Homo sapiens: one gene and its partners. The protein of the gene in region 2 purifies or fractionates together with the protein of the main gene of each other region. This does not show direct contact. Each region holds a gene or a part of one and is shown on either strand. Other genes may lie near its edges. The genes, in order: CYRIB, TMPRSS11A, SERPINB6, PCDH1 and RAB6B.

Region 1 (4,406 bases), on a different chromosome or scaffold from region 2:
ATAATAGGAAAGAAAATGTACCAAACTGACAGGTGACTCTTGCCTCCGTGGTGCTTTCCTTCCCTCCCCTCTCCCTCAAACACAGATTACTTTGTGGGAGACTTCAACCCTGTCTTTCACTCGCCATCACTGGTCTCCTCTGCTTTCATTCTAAGGAAAAGGAAACTGAACTACCCTTAAAGTGAAACGTAGATTCTGAGTTAGGCATACTACCTTCAAGCTCAAGAAAGAATCCTAAAACCTCCTAGATCTCAATTACCTTCAAGTTTTTAAAAAAGATTTCCTGCCACTTGCTGGCTTCAAAGAGCCTGACCAATCAGAAAGACAAAGTCTTGGGAGAAAAATCAGGTTGACTGAGACACAGGGAGTATTCAGAAAGAAACCAAGGAGGAAAGACTCATGATATCATTAAATATTGGCAAAACCACTGAAGTATGCGTTGTAAAAACCCCAAGAATACAGAATTCTAAAAACTAGGCTTATGGTTAAAATAGTTTGACATTATAAGGATTTTAAATTATGTTCCTTAATCTTGCTGATGTTCATTTAGAATAGATCACCTTTATTCAGGCAGCTACCGCTTATGCAACACTTTTCATAATCTTTTAAAAACTATTTTTAAACATTTTTTCATAATCTTAATAAAATCATTTGACAGTTCCGCTTAGCTGAAATGATACAGCCTACATTTTATGTGGTAAATATCATTATATAAATATTTCTGTGTTCATGTAATTTTTGTGTTTAAACCCTCAAAAAATCAAGTAATGGGACATCATCTTTTATGTCATGTGAATACTACCAATTAAATCTCTGTAGTCAAATGTTATAAAGTATCGAGATTTTCATTTAAAAATGTTCTAGCAGCTGGGCACAGTGGCTCATGCTGTAATCTCAGCACTCTGGGAGGCCAAGGTGGGTGGATCACTTGAGGTCAGGAGTTTGAGACCAGCCTGGCCAACATGGTGAAACGCTGTCTTTACTAAAAATACAAAATACAGGCACATGCCTGTGATCCCAGCTACTCGGGAGGCTGAGGCAGGAGAAGCACTTGAACCTGGGAGGCCGAGGTTCCAATAAGCCAAGATTGTGCCACTGTACTCTAGCCTGGGTGACAGAGCGAGATTCCAACTCTAAATAACGAAATAATGTTCTAGCATTTGTAGAAGTTTGAGCAACTAAATTAAGTAAAACTAATCTAAGAAAAGACATTAAATAATGACTACTTAATTTTTATTGTAGGAAATACATAAAAATAACAGAACACAAGTCTGAGCACAAATGTAATTACATTCTATTAAGAGGAAAGAGCTAGTTACAAGCCACTTTGTAAGATATTATTTTGTAAAAAGATAACTACTACATAGAGCTATTATCTATATATGTAAAGAAAAAACTCTGGAAGGCTATATGCTAATAGTGGCTTATCTCAAAATGGTGAGATTACATTATTTCTTTTTATTTACATTTTCTTATGTTTTCTGAATTTTATTTATAACTGGTATATAATACTTTTATTACAAAAACAAGCAATCTCTGTTTGAAGAGAAGCAACAAGTAAAAGCCAAAATCTTCAACCAGAAAATGAAGCTGCTATTGTCATGTGTCCCACACATTCCTCATCATAAAATACCGTAACCAGTGTTTGGAAGCAAGATTATCAATAAACAAAATAAGATCTTCATATTTCTAGCTTGAACACTTATTTTTATATCCTATTCACACTTAATGCATTTTCTTTACATAAACATCGACCATTTTCCTTACAGATTTTTTCTGTACATACGTACACGTACATATACACACCTGAGAGCATTTAGAAGACCTTCCACACTATTAGGAGGTTGGTCCTTAAGAACTTTGATACAACCTTTCATCTAAAGAAAAAGAAAACAGAAAAGGTAAAACAGCCATTTTTTTCATGTAACATTCCTTTTCAAAATAGTAAAATAAATCAAGACCATAACTATGGAACTCAAGAGATTACATACTATGTCAAATTAATTATTCTTAGAACAGAAAAAAACCCAACCTAAGAGTTATTATTCTCACTTAGTGAAAACAAAATCTTTTTGAGAACAAAATCAGTCAAACTAATATACCACACATGCAATGAAAAACAAACGGTTTGCTAAGGGAAGACTTCTGGAAAAGGTGCTGAGTGGCGATTTAAAGGACAGAATGGGCTGGGCAGGGTGGCTCAGGCCTGTAATTCCAACACTTTGGGAGGCTGAGGCGGGCGGATCACAAGGTCAGGAGTTCGAGACCATCCTGCCTAACACGGTAAAACCCCGTCTCTACTAAAAATACAAAAAAATTAGCCAGGCGTGGTGGTGGGCGCCTGTAGTCCCAGCTACTCGGGAGGCTGAGGCAGGAGAATGGCGTGAACCCAGGAGGCAGAGCTTGCAGTGAGCCGAGATCGCACTACTGCACTCCAGCCTGGGTGACAGAGCGAGACTCCGTCACAAAAAATAAAATAAAATAAAAAATAAAGGACAGAATGAGTATGTTACTAAGGAAAAGAAGAACTTTCAGGTAGAGAAACCTCACAGAGTAAAGTATCACACAGAGGACAGATAGGAATTTTTCAGCACTGCACCTGGAGTTATGAGAGGCTGAAAGCCAGGATGAGTTATACGAAGTGTTATGCCTGGCAGCAGGGGACTCACAGGTTATTTTAAAAGGTAACCACTTGATGACGATGGTATTTAAGATATATTAGCCTGGTTGTTATAAAAAAGCATAATACAGCAGAAAGAACACAGGCTTTGGAAGCCAGAGAAATGTGGGTTCTACCTTTTCTAGCAACTCTTTTTATTTTTGAGATGGAGTCTCGCTCTGTCACCCAGGCTGGAGTGTAGTGGCGCAATCTTGGTTCACTGCAACCTCTGCCTCCTGGATTTAAGCGATTCTCCCACCTCAGCCTCCCGAGTAGCTGGGACTACAGATGTGTGCCACCACACCCAGCTAATTTTTGTATTTTTTTTCAGTAGAGATGAGGTTTCACCATGTTGGCCAGGCTGGTCTTGAACTCCTAACCTTAGGTGATCCGCCTGCCTCGGCCTGCCAAAGTGCTGGGATTACAGGCATAAACCACTGCACCCGGCCTACTAGCAATTCTATTACTTGATCTGCTAAACTTTAGTTGCCCTGTCAGTAAAGGGAGATGACACCTAAAAGAGTATTTTCAGAGTCACAAGGGAGAACAAACGTAAAATTCCTGGGACATGGCAACCATACAGTAAATATTAACTCATTTCTCTTTACATATGACAGGTGTACATGAAGGCAACAAGCTTGGCTAGTAATCAGTAATCGAGATCCGAAATGCTAAGAGCCTAAACTAGCTATGAAAGGGAAACGGGAAGACAATTCTCACCAAACACTAATGAACTAGATGTGAGAGGTTGGGGAAAGAAACTACGAAGTAGAGAAATTAGAAAACTATTTCTAATACAAACTTTTACAGAGAGAAGAAAAGTCGAGAGCCAACTATAGTCACAAATTATTATGACTAGGTAGGGGAGGGAAAATACATAAAGTCTTCATCTTTTTCCACTGGAGCATCCTACTGGCTGTCTTTTTAATTTCAAGACAGGGTCTCTCTCTCACCCAGACTGAATGCAGTGGTGTGATCGTGGCTCACTGCAGGCTGGAACTCCTGGGCTCAAGGGATCCTCCCACTTCAGCCTCTCAACGTAGCTGTGACTACCGATGTGTGCCACCACACCTGGCTAATTTTTTTTTTTTTTTTGTAGAAATGGGGGTCTCACTATGCTGCCCAGGCTGGTCTTCTACTCCTGGGCTCAAGTGATCCTCCTGCTTCAGCCTGCCAAAGTGCTTGGGCTACAGGCATGAGCCAGCACGCCCAGCAGCACTACTGACTTTTTATATGCATTCTGAAATAAACATTTTATTTGAAATGGCCTTTGGCCAAAGGAATTAAAGGATATGACTCAAAATTCCTTATATCTAATTATCTATTTATATTGCCAAATACGTAGTAGAAGCCTTCCAGGAGGTACTCACTAGACAATATAGTCATCCTTTGATCATTCTATTCCACCTGAATACAGGCCACAAGAAAAACAGCACAGGGACAGAGGAGATGAAAGTCCACCATTTCACAAACTATAAATCTGAGTTTTGTGAGAGTCCGGTTTGCTGGCTCTTATCATAAAATAAAATCCTATGGTTTCCATGGAGAAACTCGTTTGAAATTATTTATATAAAACAATAACTTACATCAATTTTGGAAGTTTTAGCAAATGCTCCCACTGGATGTACGTGGTCATAGAGTATTATGACACCCACCATTACCCTCAAGCAGAATGACACTGTCTCTTCATTTGTAAATCTGCTTCTGTATTCCCTGAAGAGTAGATAAGATATGCATGGAAGAAGTG
Region 2 (3,505 bases):
ACCTTTTCAGTGCCTCTTTCAGTGATATAAAGTTAAAACCGGATACTGTGAGTTCTCACCTTATTTTTGGTTCTTATGAAGGTGATCATTTTGTGTAGATAGTTGTTAAATTGGTGTCCTTTGGGAAGGGGGACAATCAGTGGAGGCTTCTATTCTGTTATCCTGTTCCACTCCTCCCCAAATGAATGTTAATAATACACTAAATGCTCAGACTTCACCACTGTACATATATCCATGTAACAAAACTGCACTTTGTACCCCTTAAATTTATACAAATAAAAAATATAATAGTGAATGATTATTTGAGAACATTTATTGGCATTGCCGGTCATGATTGATTAGATTGTGGAATCAATTTATTCGACGGGGTAAATGTTTTTTTAAAAGTAGAATAGAATTGAGCAGCATAGAGTACAATAAAGTAGAAAATATTAGATTTCCTTGCATTTTGTAATGGTAAGTATTGTTTTATGAAACTTCTGTTTCAATTTTTGTATGTATTTGGTTGTATATGTAGGGAGCTGTGATGTAAAATGTATTTCCTACTGTGGATTTTGGTCAAGGTAGAGGGTGTTTTTCATAAAGCCCTGTCTTCATGGAAAACTTTAATGGTGCTCTATGACTATACTCTAGTTCAGGCAGAAGCATAAGACAAATTCTTTGAGGACATTACGTGCGGGGAGATCAGTCTGTATTTGAAACAGCCACAGACTGAAGCACCAGTCATGTATTCTGTTATTTCTTTTAGGAACATGATAGTGAATGTTCAGCTTGATCAGAAAACTATAGTTTCTGAATATTTGATGTCATGACTTTGAGTCATCTCTCACATTTCTAAAAATGATCAAGTGAATCCAGAATAGTGGTTCTCAAAAGGGGACAATTTTATACCTTAGGGGACCTTTGCCAATGTCTGGAGATATTTTTTATTATAATAATTTGAGAAAAGGGGTATGCTACAGGCATCTAGTGGGATGCTGCTAAGTATTCTGCAATGAACAGGAGAGCCCCTTACAATAAAGCATTATCCAGATCAAAATATTAATAGTGCCAAGTTTGTGAACTCAGCTTCAGAGTGATCCAAACTAGTTATTTAAAAGAAATGTGATTTTAATGACAGTTGAAAGATTCATGATACTGGCCTAAAACAAACTCAGTGATATTGTTTGTAGAATGCTCTGATCACCAACTTTATTAGATTAAAAATGACATATCAATATCTGCTTACATGTGACCCAAAATGAAATGCTGCACCAAATAGTTTAAAAATACAAAGTTCATAATTCTAAGATCATTTCCTGAATCTGAACATCCAAAGTCAGCATTAAGTTTTACCACCATAATATAGAATAATTTATATGCCTATGTATATTTATATATGAAGAAGAAACTTTGTCTTGAAGTGAATTCAGAGAATTGGCAGCCAGCTGCCTAAATGAATCTCGTCATTTAAAATTCTTATCTTAAGAGTTTTCTATCTTAATACAGGTTCAATAGCTCTCACTTAAAATTTTACAGATCTGATGATTCAATAAAAATAGTTAAGAATTCAATAAAAATAGTTAAGAATATACTCATATTCTTAAACATAACATAAGTATATTGGCCTATGTGACATGCAATCTCTTCTCAGCTTTAAAATTCTATGAGTCTAAATTATGAATCAAGTGTTTTATGAGTGAACTGCATATCTCTTTTAGATATTTTAGGATTATTTTCATGCCTTCTCAATAGCATGTGAGGGAAATTATTATAAAGCAAGTTCATCGTTCCAATGATTTGTCTTATATTTGGGCTAAATGAGTAAATGACTCCCCAGCCTGCAGACCATAATATTTCACAGGCATTGCCAAGCAGAATAATTGCTTCCATAAAGCCTTAATTTAATTGTATTACGAAATACATGAGCCTTACTCTCCTAATGACTTCAGGAGACACGTTGCTGATGGAGTATGTTTTCTCTTGTGGACCACATATAACAAAGTGGTCCAAAAGAGAAAACATACTATATGTTATATGTTATAGCCCCATGTGTTATATGCAGTAGGTGCTCAAATTTTATATTTATTTTCAAATTTTTCTAAAACTAGGGTTTTATGATTGCAATAGTTGGGACATTGCCATAAGCCTTATAAGCTATTTGGCTGTAGCAATGCGAGGGCATAAAATTTTTCTTGCTACGGAGGAACATAATGTTCTTTGATTTTTCAAGGTATTAGTAAATGCTTATTTTTTTCAGGCATTTAACCCTACAATAATAATGCACAAAATTTCCCCCTTGTGGTCAAAATATGTAAGTGCATCTGTGAAATGTCAAATTTCTTATGCCGGTGTTTTGGGACTAATGAAATTACCATCACCTTCTCCCAAATTTTTAACAAATATATAGTTTTGATTAACTAATCACTCTATCTATCTATATATAATTCATTAATCGGGATTTTTCTGATTATATCTGTAGGATAAGAATATCTATGTGACTGTATGTGTGTGTGTGTGTAGAAAAGTCACCAAAAATTAGAGGTTTTATAACTAAAAAAAGTTAGAAGATCTCTGGCTTGTTTTACTATCAGACTTTGTTTCCTACATATGACTTTCTTTTATTGGTGTCTCTCAAATGGGTGTAGAAGTAGAAAATTCATTTCTTATGGTGGAAAGGTACTTTGGAAAATCTGATTGAATAAGGAAAAAGAAAAAAAAGTATTTGTGAGCTCGAGAGAAATGTAGGGAATTATACAAGGGTTTCTTGAACACTTTGTGAGTTCAAAAAGTTTCTCAGTTAAAAGGAGACCCTTGACAACGACATTCTAAAAATCCCATGGACTATCTTCAAAAATATGTATTGAGTCTCACTGGTACTTCAACATTCGTGATTTAAAGAGCTAAGTATCTCTACCGTATTTTTCAAGCCAGATCCATTACTTTACAAATAAAAGTCCCTTATAAATTGGCTAAGGATTATTGGTTGATTAAAGTGATTCTAAATAACTTACGTTGTGTGTTTCATGTTACTAGATCCAGTAATTTAATATCACTTTGTTGTACTACACCCACTAAATAGTTGAATTCTCATGCATATATGACCTGCATACAGCTTTCTTTGTTTAACTTTTATCGTGAATTAGATGCCTGTTTTTGAAGCAATCCAGTTTCGGTAATAAGTCACTTGTGTGTAGACTCCAGGCTTGTCCTTTTGACCACAGTTATCTCCCCAGCTTACAATTCCAATGAGATACCACGTATCTTTCAGATCCCTTGTGACTAAAGGTCCCCCAGAATCACCCTAAAAATAAAAACATAAGAAAAAAGAAAGAAAATTAGCTAAACATAAAGCTCATTATTTAAGATATTTTGATGAATCACATATTTTGTTACTAGACAGTACATGTATAGACTATCAACACAGAATAATTAATTGAGACATGGATTTTAATATTACAAAGAGCCTTAAGGTTCAACTTTCACATTTAAAAAATAAAATTTATTTTGTTAGAGTAAACAGCAC
Region 3 (4,406 bases), on a different chromosome or scaffold from region 2:
TACTTGGGGCACTGGGCACTCCTGGCTTGCCAAGCCTTTCCAAACATATTTTAAGATTACTAATTTCTAATAAAAGGACAATAGAAAGTACATATTACTAAAATTCTTCTGAATATAAGGGAGTCTTTGATGATACATAAATAAATCCAGGATTCCGCAGAGCCCTGGGAACACCAGTATAAACAAAAGTAGCCATTACACGGAACTGAAGCAAAATTGGGCCTATTTTTGGTTCTTTGGATTCTAGATCACAAGAACTGCCCGCTTATCAACTTGAAGAGAAACAATTGGTAAAACAGGGAAACTTCTAGGTTAAGAATAAGAAAAGAGGAGATGCCCCAAAGCAAGAAGCACAGCCTGTGAAGTCCGTGTCTCAGGACTCAAAGCCAGCAGACACCCTGACACGTGGGGTTTTCCCTGGCCTGGGGACATGGACTTCTGTCTTTGTCCCCAAGAGGGCTCAGCCCACGTGGAGAGGCTGCCAGGTGAGATGGCTCCTCCATAAACCAAAAAAAAAAGACAGAGGTTAAGTACCATGTCAGCTGGCCAGGGGAAGGTCCCACATGCTCCCCCAACCCCATCCTAGACTATTCTACCGTCAGCACACGTTTTCCCCTCAAATGCTGAAGGACTCTTACGCTTTTTTTTTTGTAGAGACAAGGTTCTTGCCACCTTGCCCAGGCTGCTCTCCAACGCCTGGCCTCAAGTGATCTTCCTGCCTCAGCCTCCCAAGGTGCTGAGATTACAGCCATGCACCACGCCCAGCCTAAAGGACTTTTAATTCAAATGGAAATGTCCACCTAAGAAAGGCTAATAATAAAACACTCCGTCTCCGGTAATATCCCGGAGAATCTGTTTCAGGCGCTGATCTTTATATCAGTAACTTCAACAAAGCAAAGCCACCTTTGTCTGAAGACACGCCCACTGGGGAGGTGCCTGTCTGGCCAGCCCAGGTTACACCATCTGGGGCAGAGGAGAAGTCGGTGCACATGAGTTTCACTGTGTCAGGGGATTTAATTTGAAATACTGAACTGGAGAAACCAAAGCAGGATATTCGGAGGAGAAGTCAGTGCACATGAGTTTTACTGTGTCAGGGGATTTAATCTGAAACACTGAACTGGAGAAACCAGACCAGGATATTCGGAGGAGATGGCACGAGTCAGGAGGAAGACAGGGTCTCTAGTCCTGGCTCTGGTACCCTGGGCAAATCACTGGACTCCTGATACCAGTTTCCTCTCTGTATGAGGAAAAGCATATACCAGATAATCTGGGTTCCCTTCCATCTCTAACATTCAATAATTGTTAATACCAAATGCAGAAGGAAGAGCAAAAATGTAGCTCAATTTTCAAAGCCCACAGTGAGGTCAGTAATGATATTCCATTTCTTAGTTGAAAACACTGCTGACAGCCGTGAAAGGTAAAATTCTATCTATGCCTTACATAAAAATTGCTGAGCAACAAAGAAACAATAAATCAAGGATGTCCTAGAGATTTAATTTTCTTAGCAGAAACTATGTTAGTCATTAAATAACTGAATATCCTACTCCTGATAAACACCCTTACGTCAAACAGCAAGTGGTACTTCCCATGCTTCCTTAACAAGGTAAGAATTACCTACTTCAGCAGCCACCAGCACAGCTGATGATAGAACATTAGTCCCTTAACTCCCCAAACAGGAACAAGATAAAAATATCTGTCGTCCCAACCTTGTGTAACTTTGTTCAGATAGTTCTGGCAAAGGCAAATACAACTCATGAAACATAATGAGAAAGGAGATTGTCAGAAAGGAGACAAAATGAGCACAGTTAGCAAACAATTTGATGGTCTACCCAAAAAGCAGCCAGAATCAGTAAAATACTCTTAAAACTGAAAAATAATGGAGTAACTGGGCTACTAAAAAAATAGGAAAAACAGACCCCAGTAGAAACACGTGCAAAGGACATTAACAAATTTACCCCCAAAAAAGAAAGACAATAGCTAATAATTATATTTAAAAGTTTCAACTTCAGAAAAAAATATCACTTTTTTGATATATACTATGTGCTAGGTCCACACTGAAAGACCCTTACCCTCTGAGATAGCTGCTGAGAACACCTACGTTTTATAAGCAAAGAAATCGGGCCTTAGCTCTTTAAGTACCATGTCTCCAGAGAACCCAGGGCAACAATGGCAGAATGACGGCTGGAAGCCAGGACCGCATGGCTCTGTAGTTCACTCTCTTAACACCATGGTGCACAGCCTTCCCAAAAAGCAATGGTGGAGAGTACATTAAAGATGCCTTTTCAAACCATGAACCTTGCAAATACAAAAACAATTCATGCTAATACTGACAAAGACAGGCAATCCTTCTCACGCCATGCAAGTAATACGGAGGCAGCAGGGACAGAGCTTGGCCCGTACCCACTCCCGTATTTTCCATACATCCCCCACGCCATCACACCTGCCCACCAGACCATGCAAACCAGGGAGGGAAACAAGATAAGCCATGTTCCACCCCAAATCTTACCCAAGGGAGTTAAGCCTGATGCCCACATGCATACAGGATCAGAACGACGATCCTGACCTCTTGCCTTGTTGTATTACTAAAACCCTCTCCTCAGGGGCTCATCTGCCATGCCCTGATCATGACACATCTGTGCTAACATGATGTTCCCCGGTGCCTGCCACTAGCGTGTGTAATGCTGCTGACACACCTCATGACTATCCATGTCACCCTAAAACACCAGGAACACCTGTCCCGAGGGCCAGCCCGGGAACTCCTGCCCCTGTGCCGCTGCCCTCCTGCTCCAGCATAAGCCCATTATAAAGCCTTGTCTGGGACACTTTCTCTGTCTCATGTCAATTTCCACTGCATGAGAATCTAAGAACCCACGATCAGTAACAATACTGTAAATTGGTACACCAGTATTTCCTGAGTATGATTTAGAATTATGTCAAAAATAAAAGTAAAATACAATAAAGTGAAGGAAGAAAAGAAAATGTCATGGAAACATTCATACTATCTGAATTAAAAATTCCACTTCTAGGAATTTCACTGAAGGTAAAACTCACAGGTTTTGTACATAATAAAACATTATGTACAACATTATGGGATATAAATAGGGCTAATAATAATAAAAATCACAGTAATGACATGGGAATACACAAGATTACATTAAAAAAGATATAAAACTATACATACAATTTAAATTTATCCATGTAAATTAGGAAAAAAGGTAAGTGTAGGCACAATTTACAGACAGAATAGAGGGAAATACTATACACCAAATGTTTCTAACGGTAATTTTTATGTTTTTTGTGTTTTTCTGGATTTTCACATTTTCTATAGCATATAATTTATGGAGGGGGTTGGTTAACTCTTCTTTTTATGAAATTACTATATATACATTCAGTTTAAAAATCAGGTGGTGTTAAAAGAGATGTTATAAAAGACAACAAGCTCCTTCTCAGCCCTCCCAACTCCCCAGAAGCAATCACTTCCAAACCCTTTGCTCTTTCTTCTGGTATTTACCACCATATTTCTACATAACGTGTATACTACTATTTTTGACCTAATAACTTTATCATGTTTTATTTTATGTATGTATTTATTTTTATTAGGGTAGGGGTCTCACGCTGTCGCCCAGGCTGGAATGCAGTTGCATGATCACGGCCCACTGCAGCCTCGAACTCCTGGCCTCAAGCAATCCTTTAGCGTCAGCCTCCTAAAGTGCTGGAACTACAGGCACCCGGCCAAATTCTAGACATTATCTATTGCCTTCCTAATCTAGAGGCCGAGGGCCCGGTCCCGATCCACAGGTTTGCTTTATTATCACTAAATAGCATTCGATGCTAAGCCAGGTGGTGGGATGGGAACCCATTTCCTTTTTATGTAATGCTGATTTGCCTTATATTAATAGTGCCTTTCCCCCCTTTCCTTAGTTTTCTATGTACTATGTATTTTCAAATTCTCCCCAAATGTTCTACAGGTCAGTCAAACCCTTTCAGTACTTTTTTCATATGCTTCGACACAAGGAATAATCTACCAGCTGCATTTTCCTCTCCCTCCGTCTGTCACCATGCTGCTGAGCATGCGCGACTTTCACGCCGAAGAGAAATGTTCATAGACGGGGACAAGTTTCCCTACTATAATACATGGCCAATTTATAGTTTGGCAGGCTGGTCAGACTAATTTTTTTTCTCAAACACAGCACATTGCTTACAGGGCAAAGAAATTATTTTTTCTTATTTAAGTGTTGATGACATATTTTAATATGTCTAATTTTTTAATGCTTTATGCAAACTTACAAATTGCACAAACCTTAGTAGACTTTTGAACTTCTACAAATCTGATAAATCAAGACATATAAATCTAGTAAGCTAGCCTCTCCTAAGACTTTCAAACAGTACAATGATTACAAAACTTA
Region 4 (4,406 bases), on a different chromosome or scaffold from region 2:
CTCGTCCAGCACATTGATGGTGACACCAACGTAAGCTGAGCGAGGTGGGACGCCACCATCCACTGCCTTCAGCTGGAAGGTGTAGGTGCTTTGTTGCTCTCGATCAAAGCTCAGGCTGGATAGGATGGTGCCTGTGCCATTCTGGATAACAAAGTCACCGTTGTCCTGCTCCACTGAGAGCTGCACCTGGGCATTCTCCCCCTTGTCTCCATCAATGACAGTCACCATGCCCACTGGACTCAGTGCTGGCATGTTCTCCATCACTGAGAAGTTGTAGCCACTCAGCATAAATTTGGGGTCATTGTCATTGCAGTCCAGCACATTGACAAGGACAGTGGCTGTGCCCTGGAGGCTAGGACTGCCCCGGTCAGCTGCCACCACCTTCAACTCATAGCTCTCCCGCTGTTCCCGATCCAGAGATGTCTTCACCTGGATCTCTCCAGTCTCGGGTGAGATGGTGAAGAGGCCCTTAGCAGCCGGCTCAGGCTCCAGAGAGTAAACCAGCTCAGCATTAGAGCCAGAGTCAGCATCACTGGCAGTGATCTCAGCAATCACTTCACCAGGCTTGTTGTTTTCCGGGAAGGCGACCTCAGTGACACTCTGAGTGAAGACAGGTGCGTTGTCATTGACGTCCACCACCTGCACCTTGAGGGAGTTAGTGCTGGAGAGTGGGGGGTTGCCAGAGTCCACAGCCACAATCTCAATGGTGTAGTCTTTGACCTTCTCGTAGTCTAGCGGGGTGGTAGTCTGCAGGAAATACTTCTTCTTGCTGTCACTGCCTGTCTCACTGGCCTGGCGCAGCTGGAAGGGCACATCACCTGCCACCACACAGGTGACAGCTGCATTCTCTCCCTCATCTCGGTCAGACACCTGCACCAGGGCCACAGCTGTCTCCTCTGCCACATCCTCTGAGATGTTAGCCATCCCATCTTGATGAGTCACTAGCCCTATGCCCCGGATCTCAATGGTGGGGGCATTGTCATTCATGTCCTTCACGGTCACAACCACCTGGGCACGGGCACTCTTGGGGTTGGTGCCTCGGTCCTTAGCAAGCACTGAGAAGCGCAGGGTGCTTAGGTCCTCACGGTCCACCGGGCCCTGAACAGTGATAAGTCCAGTGTTCCTGTCCAGTCGAAGAAGACGCCTCACAACTTCGGGCGCCTGGTGGAATGTGTATTCGATTTCTGCATTGGCACCTTGGTCTGAGTCATTGGCCTTCACCTATAGGGCAGGAGAGAAAAACAAGGAGAACAGAGATGGTTTAGATCAGGGATAGCAAATAAAGGGGCACACATGCTGCCAATGTCCTTTCCAACAAGCATGGCAGACACAGCCAATCCAACATCGCTCCCTTTCCAGAAGCCATGTGTGTCCTGCCTTTTCCCAATTCGGACATTCTGGCAGGCATTACTAACCTATTTTCCTGAAGAGCCCAGATGCAGCCTGCAAATCCTCAACAGTGCTACAGGCAACTATTGGAGATGGGACAGGGCAGAATTAAACCTCACTTGTCATTGCTGTATGGGTCCACAAAAATACCAGGAGAGGATGAGGATCCAATAGAACTAGGGAAGCCATTTCACCAATGAACCCTGCCTGAACCCTCCTGAAGAGATGGAGAGGTGCGAGTAGTAGAGGCGGTGTGTGTGCCCGTGTGAATGTGCACTACATGCACGCACGCATGCACATATGTATGTGTATGATTGTGTCAGAATGTGTGATTAAATGTGATATGTTTGTGTGAGAAGGTATATGTGTTTGTATGTGTATGATTGTGTCAGAATGTGTGATTATGTGTGATTTTTGTGTGAGAAGGTATATGTGTTTGTGCATATGTGTGTTTGCACACATGAGTAAAGACTCACATGCCCATCTGAAGGCCCCAGGTTGGGGGATTTCTTTTGAAAGAAGTCAGGTAGGGTTGTGGGTCAGAGAAGCCCTCCAGGCCGGGCCCCAGCCACCGCTCTGTCAAACCGGGGAAACCTGTTTCAGCAGCAACTTCTCCTCCCGACTGGCACCGGCTGGCGAGGCACCAATGCGAGGAATCCGGCCTGAGCCTGCAGCCAGGAGGGAGGGGTTGATGCAGGCCACAGAGCCTGCTGGCAGTGGGCTGGGCTCCCAGCATCAAACAATGAACTGTCTGTCCCTCTGCAGTCAGCGGGCACACCCTCCCACGCCAACTCCAACGCGCACTCGACTCAACTCTATACAAACATGGTTGGTAATGGGGAAGAGGACCCAGGTGGGAATGGCCATGGGGTACTACTGGGCAGGGAGAAACATGAGGGCTGGAGTTAGGTCACAGCCAGACAGAATGTGACTGCTGTGGGGAGTGAGGGGAGAATAAGCATAACTTGGCAGAGTCTCTGGGGTAACAAAACAGAAGAGTCCTGGGTTCAAATCCCAGTTATACCACTTCCCAAGTAACTATGTGACCTTGGGCCAATTATTTAACCTCCCTAAGCCTCAGTCTATGAATGTGTGAAATGGGGATAATAATGTAACCTATTTCACAGAACTGTGGTGAGCATCAAATGGGATAATACAGGTAAAAATGCCTGACATTGCCCGGCACAGGGAAAGTGCTCCCTAAAGAGCATGTATTTCTTTTTGTCTGTCCAACCATCTACCCTCCTACCCGCCTGCCTCTGAAAAATCAGTGCTAATGCAGTAGTGGGCACTGCACCTAGTGAGCCCTCAAGCCACTGCCAGTCCTCTCCTCCTTGGGAATGGGAACTCCAGCTATCCCCGCCTGGGCTTTTCCTACAGTGAAGACTCCTGGGCAATGGTTCCCCAGGTACCCTGGTCTCTGCTCACATCTCTGAGTGCCAAACCCTAACAGTTTCTCCTCCCCTCACCCCAGTCTACCTGTCATCAACTTTATGATGAGGATCCCCAGTCTCCCTTGGCTCTAGATTGGTCTTCCAGCTTATCTGTCTCTTGTCTTACCTCTCTTTGTCTCTGTGACTCTTGGCTTCTGTCTCCTTTCTATCCTTGCTCAGTTCTGATTCTTCCCCTTTCCCACAGCCTGTTTTCTTCCATCCTCTCTTTTCAGCCCTGCTGACCTCTCTGCTTACTCTCTGCCCTACTCTCCCGCTTCACCTCACTGGGAGGTGGTAAAGCTCTTACACACCTAGGCTCTGAAGCCAGACTCTTGGCTGCGGCAAAGGTGGACTCTGAACTCATTAGCTGTAGGATATCAGGCGAGTTTTCTAATCTGTTTGGGCCCGGTTTCTCATCTGCAAAATGGGGATAATACTTACCTTGTACTGTAAGGATTAAATGATATAATACACATCATGTGTTTAGAACGGTGCCTGGCACCTAGGCTATTATTATTTGCTATCCCCGACTGTCTGTCTCCCTTTTCTTTCTCAGTCTCTTTTCCAGGTCCCAGTCCACCAGGCTCTAAAAAAAAAAAAAAAGGCTGAAACTCCCACCCATCTCCCACTTTGGCTTGAGGACCCAGGACTAAGGGTTTTCCAGGATGGGTAATGGTGTCCAGGGCAGGCCGAGCCTCCTCAGCTCCCTCACATCAAAGAGAGAGGCATCTTCAGCCCATGGGGAAGGGGAAAGGAGCTGGGGCTGGCAGGAGGCCAGAGCTGAGATGACAGCGGGAGATACACCCACCTGTCTGCAGAGACGCTTTCTTTGCTCCCTCCCAGTCCCCAGCCCCACCAAGCTGCCTAGCGCCTGGGGCAGTTCCCATGGAGAGGGGTGCTGAGAACTTCAACAGAGGAAATTGACCCCCCACTGAACCCCACTGTACCAAGCACCCCACATCTATGGGCACCCCATGCCTAGGGGAGGAGGCATGTATACAGACACCCTAGTATGTTTTTTCAGAACTCTGAGGGTCCCACCTGGCTAAAATGATCTCATCTGACTTTGTCAGGAAGAGGCAAAATGAGGCTATATCCTCCAGCTTCAGGAAAACCTCATCTGGCTAAAGAGAAACTATCCCTGGTTGGGAAGATACTCTCATCTCAGGAGAGATTCTACCTGGATAAACGGTGATTCCTTTGTTCCAACTCAGCTCACCTGGCTAGCAGAGAAGGATCTACTTGACTAGGGCGGGAGTTTTACTTCTCAGAGGTTCCCCCAGCTTGAGTCTGCCTTAGGGGTCACGGGAAACTGTTCATATGCTATTTCACTGTCACCTAAGTAGCCTGATAGAGGAAAGTAATATCACCTGCTGGGGTGGGGTGGGAAAGACTCCCCTGGCTGAGTTTGGGGAGAAGGGGTCTCACTACAGTATTCTGGCAGTTTTTCCCCTAAGTGAAGGGAACTCTCACCTGGTTGGGTGGGCTCCCATTTCTAGTGGTGGGTCACCCTGACAGTTATACGGAGGGGGCCTCTCACCTGGATGACCGAGTGGCCTATGGGGCTATTCTCAGATAGTTCGG
Region 5 (4,406 bases), on a different chromosome or scaffold from region 2:
TGATTTGCCACATGGAATAGTGGCTTTAGGGGCCCACCTGAGAGACCTGACTCTGGGGATTCAGAGTGGAGAGTGAGAACTGGGTCACACGTGTGTGTGCATACACACACACACACACACATGCGCGCGCGACTTGGCAAGTTTGGGAACAGTGAGGGTGGGCAGAGGAGGACACAGCAGCCTCTAGGGAAGGAAGGGCCCTACTGAGTGGTGTCCCCACCATGGGAGCTCAGGAGAGTTTGGGGAAGGCCAGAGGGGTTTCTGAAGAGAACCCTCAGGCTCTGCAGATGAGAGGAGGGGAAAGGTGGCCCCGGGACTAGTCAGGGGAGCCAGGTGCACTCAAAAATCCAGGAGAGACAAGGCCACTTCTGGGCAGCCTGACCCCCCTCAGCTGCCATGATAGGCCTTGCAGGGCAGAGCAGCTATAAGGCAATACCCACCACTCGGCAGCCTGCACACCCAAGGGGAGGGGAGGTAGCTGTCCTCAGAAGCCTCAGTTTCACACAGCCTGGTATCCCTTCTGATGTGCCTCAGGCCATGTGAACCCAGGCCCTTGCGGGCCCAGCTCCCACCTGCACTCAGGTGTGGAGGGGGCCTGTGGTCAGAAGAGAGGTGGACAGAAGGGGTGGGCAGAGCCAGGGCAGCAGGCTGGGTGGCGGGGGCATGCACCAGCGCGGGGACATGCATGCTTCCTTGTGTGATTTTTAAGGCTGTGGACAGCACCTAGGGCATTCGCCCACTTCAGGGTAACCACAGCCCTGAGGGCTTATCAGGTGTGTTCCATTACAAGAGCCTTGCAGGTCTGGCCTCTGCCTCGGCCCCCCACCCCCACCTCTGGCCCTGTGCGCCCTTGAGGCTGTGCAGTCCTGTTAAGAACACCTGCCCTGGCCTGAAGAGCCACAGTACTGGAGAAGGGTTACCAGCCTACTGCGCTTCCAGACCCCCTTGCCTACCTTCCCAGGGAGTCCTGCACCCACAGCTGCTGGGCCGGGGTTGGCCTAGGGACCAGCGTCTTCTCCCATGGTGACACACATATAGAAGTAGCTCCTTAGGGAGCTTTCTGACAGCCAGGGAGAGGGAGGGTGCAGAGAGGCTGGAGCAGGGCCAACCTTGTGAGCATCTGCTCACACCACAAGCTGGCCTCCACTCCGAGCAGGACCAACCTGGCCCTATAAACCCCTGTCGGTTGCAGGAGGGTGGGGAGCAGTGGAAACCATGTTGGTGTTCAAAGGCAACTCACCACTGCTCCCTGCCTTTCTGCATTCAGGGAGCAATCGCACACACATGCGTGTGCACACACATGCGTGTGCACACACATGCACACAGGCCTGGCCAGGGTCACACCTGGGCCCTGGACCCCCTATGAGCCACCCTCCCTTAGGAGCAGAGCCTCACTCACTTGTGATGTCGTACACCACCACAGCCACCGTGGAGTCCCGGATGTAGCTGGGGATCAGGCTGCGGAACCTCTCCTGACCAGCTGTGTCCCAGAGCTGCAGTCGCACCTGTCTCAGGGAGGGCAGGACCATGGGCAGAGGGGTCAGTGGGGCAGTGAGGTCCTCCTGGTCCGGGGGACTGGGAGAGCCGGGCTCTGCAATGCTGGCATCACCAGCTCCAGCCCCTAGTGTCGGCAGGTGCTCTCAGTGGTGCCCAGCTAAGGGTCCTAGGGGATAAGCCCAAAGGAACCCTCCCTGCCCCTCCCAGTCCTGATATTAGGTGCTCACCGTGCGGTCCTCCAAGTACATGGTTTTTGACAAGAAGTCAATCCCAATGGTTGCCTGTTAGAGAAAAGCACAGAACGGTCAAAATCAAAAGGTCTCATGCAAAGGGGCAAAAGCCTAGCGACCACAGGTGGTGGCATAACCAGCAAGAGGGGACGCTCATGTCAGGTCTAATGTGGCCATGCTCTGTCCTCCCTGCCCCTCCCTGCTACCACTCAGCGGCTCTCTCACTGAGGGATCAAGCTGAGGAAAGATGAGGGTGGCCTTTATAGGGTGAGATCTTCTCTGGAGAGGGCAAGTGCTTCAGAAGCAGTGAGAGCGCAGTGGTGAGGAGGCCTCCCCAGGAGCAAGGCCACTCAGGCCACTCAACGCACATATCCTGCCCTCCCCACCTGGACTCCCTGCCTTGTTCCCTTCATGGCCTAACCTGCAGCTTCCAAAGCCTCTTCCCTCTGCCCTAAAGCATGGGCCTGGGCTCAACACTGACCTCGGGAGGGTGGGAGGCAGGGGGCAGGAGCAGGCAGCTTGCTGCTGTGTGGGTGCAAACAGCAGCATGGCTTTTCTCAGGTGCGGGCACTGCAGACCACCCAGAGTGGCCTCTCGCTGGGAGGCCCCACTGGCTCTTTTCTCCCCAAGCCAAAACATTGGAAGCTGTCACCAGCTCCCCTGTGCCACACCTATGCCTCTTCTGCCCTGGCACCTGTGAGAGGCAGCCAGCCTTGTGGCCAGATGGCCAGGACCCACCACTCACTTGCTGTGTGGCCTTGGGCAGGCAACCAACCTCTCTGGGCCTCACAGGCACCCGGTACCTGTCAGTAGGACTGAGATGCTGTCAATGTAAAATGGAGATATCACTGCTATGTAATCAATAATAACAAAGACTTGGACACAGCCTGAATGTCCACGGCACTAAATAAGCATAGTGTGGTATATCCATGTGATTAGAACCCTTGGCAGCTGTTAACAATCACATTCTTGAAAAAATATTTAAGGATTTGGGGAAACGGTTATCCAGTTAAAAAAACAAATAAACAAAAAACAGGTTATAAAACATCATGTGGCGAGTGATCCCAATTAGATTAACTCAAATAGATCTATGAGTATTTTTCATGTTTTCTTAGACACTGAAGTGAAGGGAATCTGCTAACATGTTAATAGCATCACGGTCTGAATAGTGACAGAGCATTTTCTTTCCTTCATTACACTCCTTCATTACACTTTTCTCTACTTTCCACAATGAACATATAACAGTACTAAAATTAGAAAAAGTCCTTTGAAATAAAGTTTAATAAATAAGTTTAATTGTGTGGAATGCCATGATTTTTGACTGCAAAAAACACAACCAAAGGAAGCCCAAGAAAATAGAAAAGGTCATATCTCCAGTCCCCCCAGGCTGAATGCAAAGGTATGCACCAATGTGTGTGCACAAGTGTGCATGTTTACACAGTCACACTCCCAACTCGTTCCACAAAGGACTGAGACTGGCTTGCACCCTCCTGGAAGCTTGCCTCATAACACAAAGATATGGGGGGTCATTCTACGCTCTGGAGCATACGATGCTAGAATGTGGGCACTAGACAAAACACCTTAGATACAATCCAATCAATCCCTTACTTTGGAGATGAAAGAACAGACCAGAGGGTTAAAGGACATGCCTAGTGTGACTTCACTCATCAGTAGCAGGGCTGGGAAGATCAGAGCTGCAAACTTGGCAGCACCTGGGCTCTTTCTACCACAGCTTCGCATAGTGTAGCCACCGAGGCACAAATCTGCAATGACCAGTGCTTGTGGATGCAGACTTTTTCCTTCACAGGTGTATGTTAGATTGACAATCCTTGTCTTCTGATTCCCTTATGGAGAAATGTGCATAGCAGGTAGAAGTCTCTCAACTCCTCAATGCTCAACAGGCTCCCCAGGAGTGACATGCTCCTTTTGTAGAGTCACCTTTGAACTAAAACCAGGTGCATGAGCTTAGGACTGGTGGCAGGGACTGCTGGTTGTCCCCAGTATGTAGTTTCCCTTTCTATAGTAACAGAATTCTGGGTGTGCAGATGGACTCAGGGCTGCCCCAAATAAAGAACATATTTCCCAGCCTTCTTTGCAGCTGGGCGGCTACATTCTGGTTAATGGGATGTGAACGTGATGTAGGCATCTTTGGGGTCAGGTCCTCTGTGGGTAGGGAGTACCCACAGCTGCTCCCTTTCCCACTGTCCGGTGGGGATGAGTCATAGTGGCCCATCCAGATGAGGATGACAGAGGAGCGATGACATCAACGAAGGCTGACTCCCTGACCCTGAGGAGCTACTTCAGCAGCGCTGGACTGCTCAGATTGTTCTATTTTGTTTAAGTCACTGTTATTTTGGGTTTCTGTTAACATAGCCTAATTAACAAGCAAAGAACCATGGAGAAACGTATCTCTCAAAGGTAGGCACCTGATGGTAATGCTACTGATAACTGTAATGATGACAACCCCATCACACCTCACATGTCACAAGGCACTTCTGCTTCCACAAAGGGCAGAGAAGTCACCAAATGAAACAAGAAATTGTGCCACTTGGATGAAGTCCCAGCAAAGCTCAACCCAGTGGCCTCCATAATCATAAACACCATTACTGAACATCCACATACTTTCTCTCACATCCCATAACAGACTAACCAGAGGCAGCAACGAGGAACCTGAACAAG

What was found.
Region 1: the proteins of TMPRSS11A (region 2) and CYRIB purify together in Homo sapiens (affinity purification with mass spectrometry; one large-scale study listed by BioGRID and IntAct). This does not show direct contact.
Region 3: the proteins of TMPRSS11A (region 2) and SERPINB6 purify together in Homo sapiens (affinity purification with mass spectrometry, with the first as the bait; one large-scale study listed by BioGRID). This does not show direct contact.
Region 4: the proteins of TMPRSS11A (region 2) and PCDH1 purify together in Homo sapiens (affinity purification with mass spectrometry; one large-scale study listed by BioGRID and IntAct). This does not show direct contact.
Region 5: the proteins of TMPRSS11A (region 2) and RAB6B purify together in Homo sapiens (affinity purification with mass spectrometry; one large-scale study listed by BioGRID and IntAct). This does not show direct contact.

The regions. Positions count from the first base shown.
Region 1 is NC_000008.11:129,844,998-129,849,403, forward strand, and holds part of CYRIB (CYFIP-related Rac1 interactor B), read right to left. Parts: intron 4,373-4,406; coding exon 4,246-4,372; intron 1,878-4,245; coding exon 1,807-1,877; intron 1-1,806. UniProt on the Homo sapiens protein: Negatively regulates RAC1 signaling and RAC1-driven cytoskeletal remodeling. Regulates chemotaxis, cell migration and epithelial polarization by controlling the polarity, plasticity, duration and extent of protrusions.
Region 2 is NC_000004.12:67,908,221-67,911,725, forward strand, and holds the end of TMPRSS11A (transmembrane protease serine 11A), read right to left. Parts: intron 3,284-3,505; coding exon 3,122-3,283; 3' UTR 1,175-3,121; downstream 1-1,174. UniProt on the Homo sapiens protein: Probable serine protease which may play a role in cellular senescence. Overexpression inhibits cell growth and induce G1 cell cycle arrest.
Region 3 is NC_000006.12:2,961,256-2,965,661, forward strand, and holds part of SERPINB6 (serpin B6), read right to left. Parts: intron 876-4,406; exon of another isoform or gene 1-875.
Region 4 is NC_000005.10:141,864,207-141,868,612, forward strand, and holds part of PCDH1 (protocadherin-1 isoform 2 precursor), read right to left. Parts: coding exon 4,363-4,406; intron 4,273-4,362; exon of another isoform or gene 3,264-4,272; intron 1,997-3,263; exon of another isoform or gene 1,866-1,996; intron 1,222-1,865; coding exon 1-1,221. UniProt on the Homo sapiens protein: May be involved in cell-cell interaction processes and in cell adhesion.
Region 5 is NC_000003.12:133,839,886-133,844,291, forward strand, and holds part of RAB6B (ras-related protein Rab-6B), read right to left. Parts: intron 1,779-4,406; coding exon 1,725-1,778; intron 1,506-1,724; coding exon 1,400-1,505; intron 1-1,399. UniProt on the Homo sapiens protein: The small GTPases Rab are key regulators of intracellular membrane trafficking, from the formation of transport vesicles to their fusion with membranes. Rabs cycle between active GTP-bound and inactive GDP-bound states.